Homo sapiens: one gene and its partners. The protein of the gene in region 2 purifies or fractionates together with the protein of the main gene of each other region. This does not show direct contact. Each region holds a gene or a part of one and is shown on either strand. Other genes may lie near its edges.

Evidence for each region.
Region 1: the proteins of ST8SIA2 (region 2) and HS3ST1 purify together in Homo sapiens (affinity purification with mass spectrometry; one large-scale study listed by BioGRID and IntAct). This does not show direct contact.
Region 3: the proteins of ST8SIA2 (region 2) and PCDH1 purify together in Homo sapiens (affinity purification with mass spectrometry; one large-scale study listed by BioGRID and IntAct). This does not show direct contact.

What each region holds. Positions count from the first base shown.
Region 1 is NC_000004.12:11,395,251-11,398,021, reverse strand, and holds part of HS3ST1 (heparan sulfate glucosamine 3-O-sulfotransferase 1 precursor), read left to right. Parts: 3' UTR 1-2,771. UniProt on the Homo sapiens protein: Sulfotransferase that utilizes 3'-phospho-5'-adenylyl sulfate (PAPS) to catalyze the transfer of a sulfo group to position 3 of glucosamine residues in heparan. Catalyzes the rate limiting step in the biosynthesis of heparan sulfate (HSact).
Region 2 is NC_000015.10:92,392,507-92,396,708, reverse strand, and holds the start of ST8SIA2 (alpha-2,8-sialyltransferase 8B isoform 1 precursor), read right to left. Parts: upstream 2,829-4,202; 5' UTR 2,645-2,828; coding exon 2,547-2,644; intron 1-2,546. UniProt on the Homo sapiens protein: Catalyzes the transfer of a sialic acid from a CMP-linked sialic acid donor onto a terminal alpha-2,3-, alpha-2,6-, or alpha-2,8-linked sialic acid of an N-linked glycan acceptor through alpha-2,8-linkages.
Region 3 is NC_000005.10:141,871,870-141,875,518, reverse strand, and holds part of PCDH1 (protocadherin-1 isoform 2 precursor), read left to right. Parts: intron 1-3,649. UniProt on the Homo sapiens protein: May be involved in cell-cell interaction processes and in cell adhesion.

The DNA of each region.
Region 1 (2,771 bases), on a different chromosome or scaffold from region 2:
AGAGAACCACTGTACCTGCCCCCAGAGGAGTGGCTGGAGTTCAGTTTTACTTCTGCCCCTGAGCAGCCAGCTTGTTGGAGATGGTCACATAAACCCTTCTTATCCTCAGTTTTTTCATGCATTCTTCATGCAGTCAGCCTTTTACAGAATTAAACCCATTGGATTTTAATAAAAATAAAACATTCATTACAGTAAAAGAGAAAATACAAACAAGCAAAATAAACCGGCTTCCTGACATGGTTTATACCGCAGGAAAATGACAGAAATGGACGTTATTAATCATCTCCTACACTTAAGAACTCATTGAAATTTCTCCAAGCAACCCCAGGATGCAGATATTATTATGGAAATTTCAAAGAGGAGGAATTAGGCCCAGAGAACATGAGAAACTTGCCCAAGGTCACATTGACTATAAACTCAGGCTTAGAGGCTACTCAGAGCCAAAGCACAGGTTATTTATGTATTTAGTTTTTACCCAACTCTTTCTGAACTCAAAAGGAAAAGCCCAGACTCAGAGCCAGTTCTTCCTGACCTGACTTAACATTTCTTCCCAGGTGCCAAATATCTTCCATCCTAAGAGGTGTGTCCCAGATACAGGAAGGGCAAGAAGAAGCCTGCATTTTTCTCAGCAGTGTTATCAGGGAAGTGAGTCACCTTGGTACGTTTCAGCAGCTCCAGCCTGACCTGACCTTAGCATGGCCTATGCCCCACCCCATATCATGAACAGAGAGCAGAGAGGATGCCTTCCTCTTTAGAATCCATTGAAGTTGTCATTAAGCCATCATCTCCCCCAGAGGAAGTAGCAGAAATATTTACAGCAGGCCCCTGGTGGACATGGTACTTTTCAATAGGCAGAGAGCCTCCCTCTGCAGCACATCGTTGGATCTTGCTTTTACCATACTCCTTGAAGAGCTGAAGAAATAAGAGGGCCCAGCAAGGTTAAGTCAAGTTTCCAAGCCTGTTCAGGAATATGGTGACTGAAAGGAAACTGCAATGAGAGTCTCTGACTGAAGAAGATGCTCTTTGCAAACTGCCTGTAAATTCCTGTCCCCTGACAGGGATGGTCTGGTAGAAGCATGAACTGTGGATGCAAGAGGCAGCGGGGAGGAGTGGAGGAAGACAGGACCAGCACATGGAATATAATCTAGCTGCTGGGACTGGCATAGTCGATGGAGGCGGTGGTCCAGTGTAAAATGATCAGTGAATGTAAATTCAATATGTTTTCATTTGGGGGTGCAGAGTCGTGGCTAAAGGAATGTTCAAATGAGTCTACCATGAGCAAGGGATCAGAGGTCCTAGTGGCACTATCTGTTCATTCATTTTTGGTACAACCCCAGCCAGTCATTGAGAAGGTACACTGTGTAAGAAACCATCACTCCAGACTTACCCAAGGTATTTATTGCTAGATCTCACCAAGCACTGTCAAATTCAAAGGAGGCCCTGTAGTAGACCCTGGGCTGTCCTTACAGGGCCAAAATGCAGTGACTCAGGAGCCTAATAGCACCCGGTCCCTCCAAAACATGCCTTCTACCAATTCCATTAACAGAGACAGGTGTCAGTGGAAGGGGTGGGTCTCCTGTCCAGACCACCCCGGCCCGGGAGCAGCCTGGGGGATCTAGGTGGGTCCTTCCAGAGAGGCAAGTGAGAACAACTGAACCAAGCCTCAGCTATTAGATTTGGAATATTCACACACTTGACACTCCAGAGTCAGAACAGCCCCTTCCCTTTCCCTTCCTCCTGGAATCAGATAGGGTTGAAATCCTTTTAACACCATTTGGTTATCAGCTCACAACCTGAAGGTTTGCAAGTTTAGGAAAAGTGACATGCCTCTGAGCACAGGGTGCTTTACTCCTTCTGTGCTTGGAGGCTTACCCAACTGAAAGGAGATGGAGGGCAGGAGAGGCCGATGCCTAGCGTGCCTGCTGCTTACAGGGGTGGTGTCACAGGTCACCATTATTCATTAAAATTTTACTTTTTTGATCCCCTACCACATGCTCAACATGGTATTGAGTCCTCAAGAATATAAAAAGAAAATACAACAGGAACCAGTAGTCATTAACTGTTTGTTCTGGACTTTAATAAAAGTACAGAGGGTCTTGGAGTACAAAGGCAAAGACATTTAGCTGTGTATAGAATGGGTGGGGGAATGTGTTCCATGGTTTGGCATTCAGTTCAGCAACATTCCTGAGAGAAATCAACTAGCCCCCTTATAGAGAAGAGGAAACTGAGATTTAAAAAGTGGTCCTGGCCGGGTGTAGTGGCTCACGCCTGTAATCCCAGCACTTTGGGAGGCCAAGACAGGTGAATCACGAGGTCAGGAGTTCAAGACCAGCCTGACCAACATGGTGAAACCCCATCTCTACTAAAAATACAAAAATGTGCCAGGCATGGTGGCGAGTGCCTGTAATCCCAGCTACTCAGGACACTGAGGCAAGAGAACCACTTGAACCTGGCAGGTGGAGGTTGCAGGGGGCCGAGATGATGCCACTGCACTCCAGCCTGGGCAACAGAGCAAGACTCCATCTCAAAAAAAAAAAAAAAAAAAAAAGATAAATTAATAATAAAAAAATAAAAAAGTAATCCTGACTTCAAGTCATTTTTTTCAGAAGAAAGGATTCTTGCTCACTCCAGGGAAATAGTCCAGAAATGGAAAATGTTGACATCACAAATCACAAAAGAAGGTGAAAAATATCAGAGACCCTCTCCAGAATGTCATTTCTCAGAAATATTAAGAAATAGAGAATCTTCCCAGAGGTCGCATGTCAGGGCAG
Region 2 (4,202 bases):
CAGCCTGGCCAACATGGTGAAACCCCGTCTCTAATAAAAATACAAAAATTAGCCTGGTGTGGTGGCAGGTGCCTGTAATCCCAGCTACTCGGGAGGCTGAAACAGGAGAATTGCTTGAACCCGGGAGGCGGAGGTTGCAGTGAGCCGAGATTGTGCCACTGCACTCCATCCTGGGCGACAGAATGAGACTCCGTCTCAAAAAAAAGAAAAAGAAAAAAAGAAAAGACAAAAAAAAAAACAAAAACAAACAAACAAAAAGAAACCCCTCACTTGTAAGCAGACAGAAGGTGCTGTTGGGATTCCCATGCTCTGCCCATGTGTTTACTCCTCCAGCCATGGTGAATCCCAAAATATGCCTCCATTCCTCTGGATTAAACATGTGTGGGGCTGACCGTGGGTGGGGCAAGAGTGCCCATCCCAGTCGAAAGGCATATGCAGTGTTGACCTAAGGCAGCTACATCAGCCTGGGAGAGAGGGTGTCTTAGGCCTGGTCAGGACTGGTCAAGCCAGTGGTCAGCCTGGGACGAGAGGCAAGAGAGGGAAGGAAGATGCCACAGGAGGTGACACATCGTACTTGTTTGACCGTTTTTTCCTAGGATTGGCCCAGCAGAGACAGGATAAAAAGAAGCAGGGAGCACTCAAGTGAGACAAGTCCCCGGGGTGCGTACATATATGGGAACAACCTGATGTGGGGAGCGTAGGCTTCACCGTGCATTTGGCAAGAAAGTGCAACATTATGTGCAAAGTGATCTCCTGATTGCATTTTAAAAATTAAAAGTTCCCAGCATGTGGAAGGTATTTGGTAAGAATTCAGTGAATGGCTGACCTAGGGGTGCCTGGATAAGCACAGCACTTATGTTTTTATAACAGGACAATGGGCAGCGCCGGGCCTTCCCTCTCACATGGGCAAAGGTCAGCAAGTGATCTGAGCCGGGCAGTGCCCACATCCGGAATCAGAAGCCGGAGAGCCTAGAGGAAGGCCCTCCTCACCGCATCTTCCATTACCCCAAGACGTGACTTGCCCGATTTCCTTTCCAATCCACGTTTCTGAGGCGAGCAGCTATGAAAAGTAGCATGTTTATCTCTGCGTGGGAATTGGTGGCACGTTGTGTATTAACTGCGCAGCATTTGTGAAAGTTTTCAGAGCTCTTGGGGAAACCGAGAATGAGAGGAGAAAGAGGCAGGGAGAGGGGTTCTGGAAGCCCAGCGGAGTTCACAGAAGGAATTCCAGGGAGATGGGCAGGGGCAGGGAGAAAATGAGAGCAGGAAGCGGCACTTGTCACAAGTTTTTGTCCTTGGGGCCTCGGCATCCCGCCTGGGCCCAGGACTGGCATCTCCCATTTGAGGGACTGACAGTGTGGCGGACCCTCAACTAGCACAGATAACAAATGAAGTAACAAATGGGACAAAGGAGGGGCGCACGCGGCGCGGGACTCGAGAAGAGCGCCTGGCAGAGCACAAATCCCACAGAAGAAGAGACCTTCTGCCCTCTTTGAGACCTCACCTTCCCCTTGCCCAGGGCCAGGAAGCTCTCCTCGGGCCTCCTCAGAACCCCGGCTGCCTCCCCACCTGTCGTCTACCGCCCTTTGGAGGTTCCGGAGAGGGGCCCGGCCCGGCGAGCCGAAGGCTGCGGGGCGGGGCGCGAGTCTCAGCCCCTGGGACACACAGCCGGTGCGTCCCGCGCCTCAAGTGCGCACTCCAGGAAGTCCGGAGCCGGGAGGATCCGGGCTCGCGGTCCCACCCTACCTCTGGCGAGGTCGGGAGAAAAAAAGCGCCAGATCGCCCGCCTGAGGGCCCAGAAGCCCACCGGGCGGCGGTACAGACTTTCCCGAAATGTCTCCGTCTCCGCGCTGCGAGCGCACAGGAACCCAGGGTCGCCGGGGTTGCCGTGGCTTGGCTGAACGTCCAAAGCCAGGCGAGGGCGGGGGGTCTCAGTCCAGCTATGCGAGCCCTTCTCTAGTGGTGCCAGCTCCTACGCCGGGCTCCCGGGCCGGCGGGAGGCGCGTGTGCCTGTCTGTGTGTGCAGGGGACATTCCGCTTCCCAGTAGCCCATGCAGAACCCCGCCCTCCGCTCCGGCCCCAGGAACCCCTCCCCCAGCTCAGAGATCCCTGCGCGCCCCCTGCCCACTTTGCCAAGGCGAGAAAGCGGCCGTGCTGGAGACAAAGAAACTCCTGCCTCCCTCCACTCTCGGCCCCTCCGCCCGCCCGAGACACTCCCCGGCGCCCTCCCTCGACCCCGGCGACACTGCGCTTGGACACGCCAGGCAGGGGGGCAGGGTGGGCGAGTCCGCTTCCCGACGCGGGCCAGCTGGGGGCTTCCCGTGAACCCCGCCCGGGGACACCCCACAGCAGCCGCGCCCCCACCCTCCTCTCCCCAAACCGTCCCGGGCCCCTGTCGCCGCCACCTTCTGCCAAACCGTCCCCATCTCTCCAGCGGAGCTACAGCGGGGCGCGGCGCACACAAAGGGGGTCGGAGGGTGGAGAGTACAGAAGGAGGGAGAGATCCCGCCAGGGCTCGTGGCACGGGCCTGGGAGCAGCTATTTACCCGATTTCTTCTTCGATCTCTGAGATGTCTGCGAAGATGAGGAAGACCACGAGCAGCGTGAGCGCGGCCAGCATCCAGCTCCGGAACTGCAGCTGCATGGTGGGTTCGCGCCCGCCGGGACCCACGCGGGCCGGCGCGAGGAGCAGGGGCCGGAGGGCGCAGCGGCGGACGCCGGAGCCTCCGCGCGCCGCGCGCAGCTGGGCAGACACCCTGCGCTCCGGACGAGTCCGGGCCGGCGGCGGCAGCGGCAGCGGCAGCGGCAGCGACAGGCAGGGGTTGCTCAGGCGCGGCGAGCCCGCTCGCTCCCTCCCGGCTCCCGCCTGCCCCTCCCTCCCTCCTCTCCCTTCCCCCGCCCCGCGCCCGGCTCCGCGCGCAGTTTGACAGCTTTGCTCCGCGCCTCTGCTCGCCTCCTCCCACCAACTCCAGCGTCCAGGCGCTAGCCTTTGCTTCTCCCGCCTGGCTTTATTCAGCTCCCGAGGGCGCGGGGATGCAGCCGGACGCCACTCCTGGCCTAGAGAGACTGGGCTCTGGCCACCGCGAGCGACCGGGTACGGAGCTGAGCCCAGGGAAGTGCGCGCACCGCCCGGCGCACCCCTCAGGCTGGCAAACGCCCTCCCTCGCCCGCTCTTTGTCCAGCTCCCTCGCCTCCTCGCAAAGTTTTCTCGACACAAAGACCAACACCTGGGGACAGCCCCCAGCGCGCGGCGAGAAGGCGGTTTCAGCCAGGCAGATGTTTCAGCAGTTGATGAATTAGGAGGGGAGGTGGGGGAAGGGGAGGAGAGAAGAAATATCCAAGACAGGCCAACTTCAGTGAAGATGCTGACTACAGTTTGTGGGCGAGGCTCTCAGCCCTCGAGAAACCACTCCCTCCAGGTGCTGATCTTTATCTCCATTTATAGACCCGATACTGGGTCGGGAGAGCTCTCCGAGCTGCCCCCAGATCACGCAGTCCTGGCTGGAACCCTCGGCTAGAACCCCAATGGGAGACTCAGCGCCCGCCTTCCCTCCGCCCTCGCGGTGCTGACGCCGGGTGGCCTTCATCTCCCCAGTTCTTGGACTCTCAATGACCCTAAGATCAATAACCGCGGGAGGCCTGTCTTGATCAAAATGCCTTCTAGAAAAATATGGCTCCCACAAGGGGTAATGCCCCCCACCCTTCCGAATATTGTACACTTTCACAGCCTTAGACAGTTTAAGTCAAATTACATTTCACACCAACCATTGGCCAGGGGTGGGAAGGGCCCCATTAAGTTTTACTGGAATTAGATAATTACCTTTTATTTTCTTTGCACGAATTGGAACAATTCCTGAAATTAAGAAATGTAACTTTCCAGAAATGATCATCTGGTTTATGAAAGGGTCCTTTGGGTTTGAGTGTGGGGAGGAGGAGTCCTGTTGGAGAAGCTACATGGAATGTCCTAAGTGCTGGAAACCACACCCCAGTGAATGGGAGGGGCGTGTCGGCCTTATCCCCTGGACCACTCAGAGGAGTTTGGCGAGGGGCTGGCAGCAGCCAAGTCCCTTCATGGCGCCCCCGGGGATGTAAGAGGGCCTTCTGATTTTCTACCAAAGTACTGCTTGTGCCCAGAGCCCTTCTGCCCCTTCGTGTGTAAGGAGGGGCAGGAGGGAGGCTTCCAAGCCGGGGGCTGCTGCCCT
Region 3 (3,649 bases), on a different chromosome or scaffold from region 2:
AGGGTGGGGGAGGAGCTAAGTGGGAATCAGGGTTCGGGGAGGGGTGTAGGGAAAGAAGAAGGTGAGGGCTGCCCCTGCCGTGAGCAAGGATAGTTGGTGCAGAGATTCTGTTCAACAATGTATTGAGCACCTTTTATCTGCCAGGGTCCATGGTGGGTGGTGAGGATGCAGTAGTAAGAGACATACCATCATTGCCTTCATAGGACTTACCAACCAGCGAGGGGATTGGCTTGTTTATTCATCGAACCAAGGAGCACCCACTGTGTGCCCGATGCTGGAAATAAAATGGTCTATTCAGCAATTAGAAGACTTAGAAAAAAAAATGATTTGTCCTTTACATGTAATGTAAATAGACCTTAATGTAATAGACCTTATAGGCATGAGATCTCATTTAATTCTCCCAAATAATTTCAAGAGGCAGGTTTCATTATTTCCATTTCACAGTATGGAAACAGGTTCAGAAAAGTAAATTCACTTGGTTAATGTCACACAGCTAGGAAGTGGTGGAGCGAGGGTTCTAACCCCAACGATCTGACATGCAGGTGCCCAGAAGCCCTGCAGAGGCTAATAGAGGGTTGTGGGAGAGAGGGGAGAGGAGCTGAGGTCTGCACACTTGCTCTCTGTGGGAGGCTTCTGTTCAGCTCCACCCCACGCAACCCCATTTTCTTCCCCTCTCCCCGCGACAGTCCGTTTGTCCCTTGGTGTTTTGTGCCCGCGGCAGTGACCGTTGTGTAACAGTGCTGGGGTGAGGGTGGGGAGTCAGAGCTGACCTGGCTACTGGGACAGTGGTGGCTGCCTCTGTGTGTTTTTTCTCTGGCCACAGCACTCAGCAAAATGGACCTTGGTCCCCGGGGTGGGCTGGAAGTGAAGTTTCCGGGTGAACTCTCACCTCTGTTCTCATCCCTTCCCAGATGTTGACACAGACAGTATTTCCTTCAGCTTTTCTGGGACTCCGTCCCCTCCTTATCCCTTACTCCTACACCCCTGACGGCACTTCTGCTCCTCTATCTGAGGGACATGGGTCCCTGCGCCTGTTCCCCCTCAGGCTCTGGCTTCTCAGGGTCCTGGGTGCCCATGTCACTGGGGGGAGGTAGGGCACCGTTGCCCAGGAAGGCAGCCAGGGCCCGGGGAAGGGCAGATAAGGCGCTGCATGTATCAAAGGCTGCTGTGTGGGATTAATGACTCCCAGTGCCCAACTGCTGGGGACAAAGTTCAGAGATGGTGGGAACACGGGTGAGGGAAGGCCTCCTTATTGCTGCTCCTGCCCTTCCAGGCCACCCTGGCTCTCTTCCTGCATTTCTACGGGCCCCTGGGTGAACAGCAGCAGCCTAGGAAGCCTGGGCTGGTTCATTCCTTGACCCTTAGGCCCACTGTTTCTTATTCCCTCCTTACGGGGCAAGGTTGGCAGTCCAGGAATGGTGGGGAGGCGGGTGTGACATAACAGGAATCAGATTCTAGCCTCAGATATTTCTGTTTCTTTCCCCCAGACTCTGGGATGTGAAGAGGCATTCTTGTTTCTCAAGTCCTGGTTCTTCCACATACTACTTCTGTGACTTAAGACAGTTTATTCTTTCTCAGCCCCCATTTGATCATCTGTAGTATGGGAAGGAGTGTAATAATAAATACTACCCATTTGAGAGGGTTGGGAGGAAAGAGATCATGTGTGTAAAATGCTTAGTACTGATAAAATCTTAGTGTTTGCTGAGATGATGATGATGATGAGTGATTATGATGGCAAAGGTGATGATAAAAGTTTGCAGGGGCTGGGCGCAGTGGCTCACGCCTGTAATCCCAGCACTTTGGGAGGCTGACGCAGGAGGATCACGAGGTCAGGAGATCAAGACCATCCTGGCTAACACGGTGAAACCCCGTCTCTACTAAAAATACAAAAAAAAAAAAAAAAAATTAGCTGGGCATGGTGGCGGGCGCCTGTAGTCCCAGCTACTCGGGAGGCTGAGGCAGGAGAATGGCGTGAACCTGGCAGGCGGAGCTTGCAGTGAGCCGGGATCGCGCCCCTGCACTCCAGCCTGGGCAACAGAGCAAGACTCCGTCTCAAGAAAAAAAAAACGTTTGCAGGACCGGGCCAGGCGCGGTGGCTCACGCCTGTAATCCTAGCACTTTGGGAGGCCGAGGCGGGCAGATCATGAGGTCAGGAGATCGAGACCATTGTGGCCAACACGGTGAAACCCCGTCTCTACTAAAATACAAAAAAAAAAAAAAAAAAATTTAGCCGGGCGTGGTGGCACGTGCCTGTAGTCCCAGCTACTTGGGAGGCTGAGGCAGGGGAATTGCTTGAACCCGAAAGGTGGAGGTTGCAGTGAGGCCAGATCGCACCACTGCACTCCAGCCTGGCAACGGAGTGAGACTCTGTCTCAAAAAAAAAAAAGAGTTTGCAGGACCTCAGGCTCTTTCTTAACTCCCTGGAATTATCTCAAAGTTGTACCCAGATGGTCCGACCATTGCATCACAATTGCTTGGGGGTTTCTCTAGGTCCCACCTCCTGAATAAAGATTCCTAAGGGTGGGGCCAGATAATCCTCATTTTGAAGAAACTCTCCAGATGCTTGAAAGGCCTAAGCCCTCTTCAACTCCTTTCCCCACTGTGAGCAACTCTCCCCCAACCCTGTTTTCCCCACATTCCTCCTACTTTCTGGGACCTTTCCCCAGCCCCGCCATCCCATACCTTCCTTGAGCTGGATATTATCCTGTGGTTCTCCTTCTCTTTCCAATTCAGAGGTTAGATACCACAGTCCTTAATTGGTTCTTTTGCTGGTTGAAGGTAAGACAACTCCTCAGGGTGAGAAAGAGCGTGTGGGGAGCGGAGGTAGTCTCACAAGCATGTGTGCCTGTTCTGCCTAGGAGGTTTGAAAGGTTATAGGGCCTCAGGTTGTGACTGTGAGATGGAGGAAGCCTGAGGCAGGGGCTTAATTCGTAGCTCTTGGAGTGGCCACACATCATTCGCCCTGACTGCCAGATCATGGCCCCCTGAATTAGCGGCTAAAATTTGTGAACAGTCATTTTTCCTGGAAAAATCTGTACCATGGTTTTATAAAATTCTTGAAGGAGGATGTGACCACAGAAGATTAACTATCTTAAGTATCCTCGATCTGGAGAGAACAGAGGCAAACAGTGACTGCCTTATTTATTCTCTTGGTCAGGTTTAGGGTAATTCCCGTGGGCTTCCCACATAACGCCTCACCTGCCAAGACTTTTGTAGAGAATTAGGGTGCACAGTGATACCACATTGTATATGCAGAGGAGGGTGGCAGCAGGATACAGTCCCATAAGAAAATGAGGTTCTCTGGTGATGGTCCTTTGACGATGTGTTTGGGTTGGGGTTGAAGTAGTCAGATGAGCCTTGTGCCAGGTCCATGCAGGTGGAGGGGGGGGGTGGGGGGTGGATCCAAATGGAGTACAGATAAATTCCTGCTTCCTTTAAAGAGATTAACATTCACACCAATCTGATAACGCCGCACACACTTTAGGGAGGGGCCTGTGCTTGGGGAAGGCCATACAGAGGAGGGGATGTGTTTGATTTATCTAAAGACTCTGTGCATTCAGTGAACATTTGCTGAGAGTCTACTATGTGCCCTAAACAGAGAAGACTTACATTTTACCCCAGGAAGTTCTTAGTGGTGTAGGGGAATCGG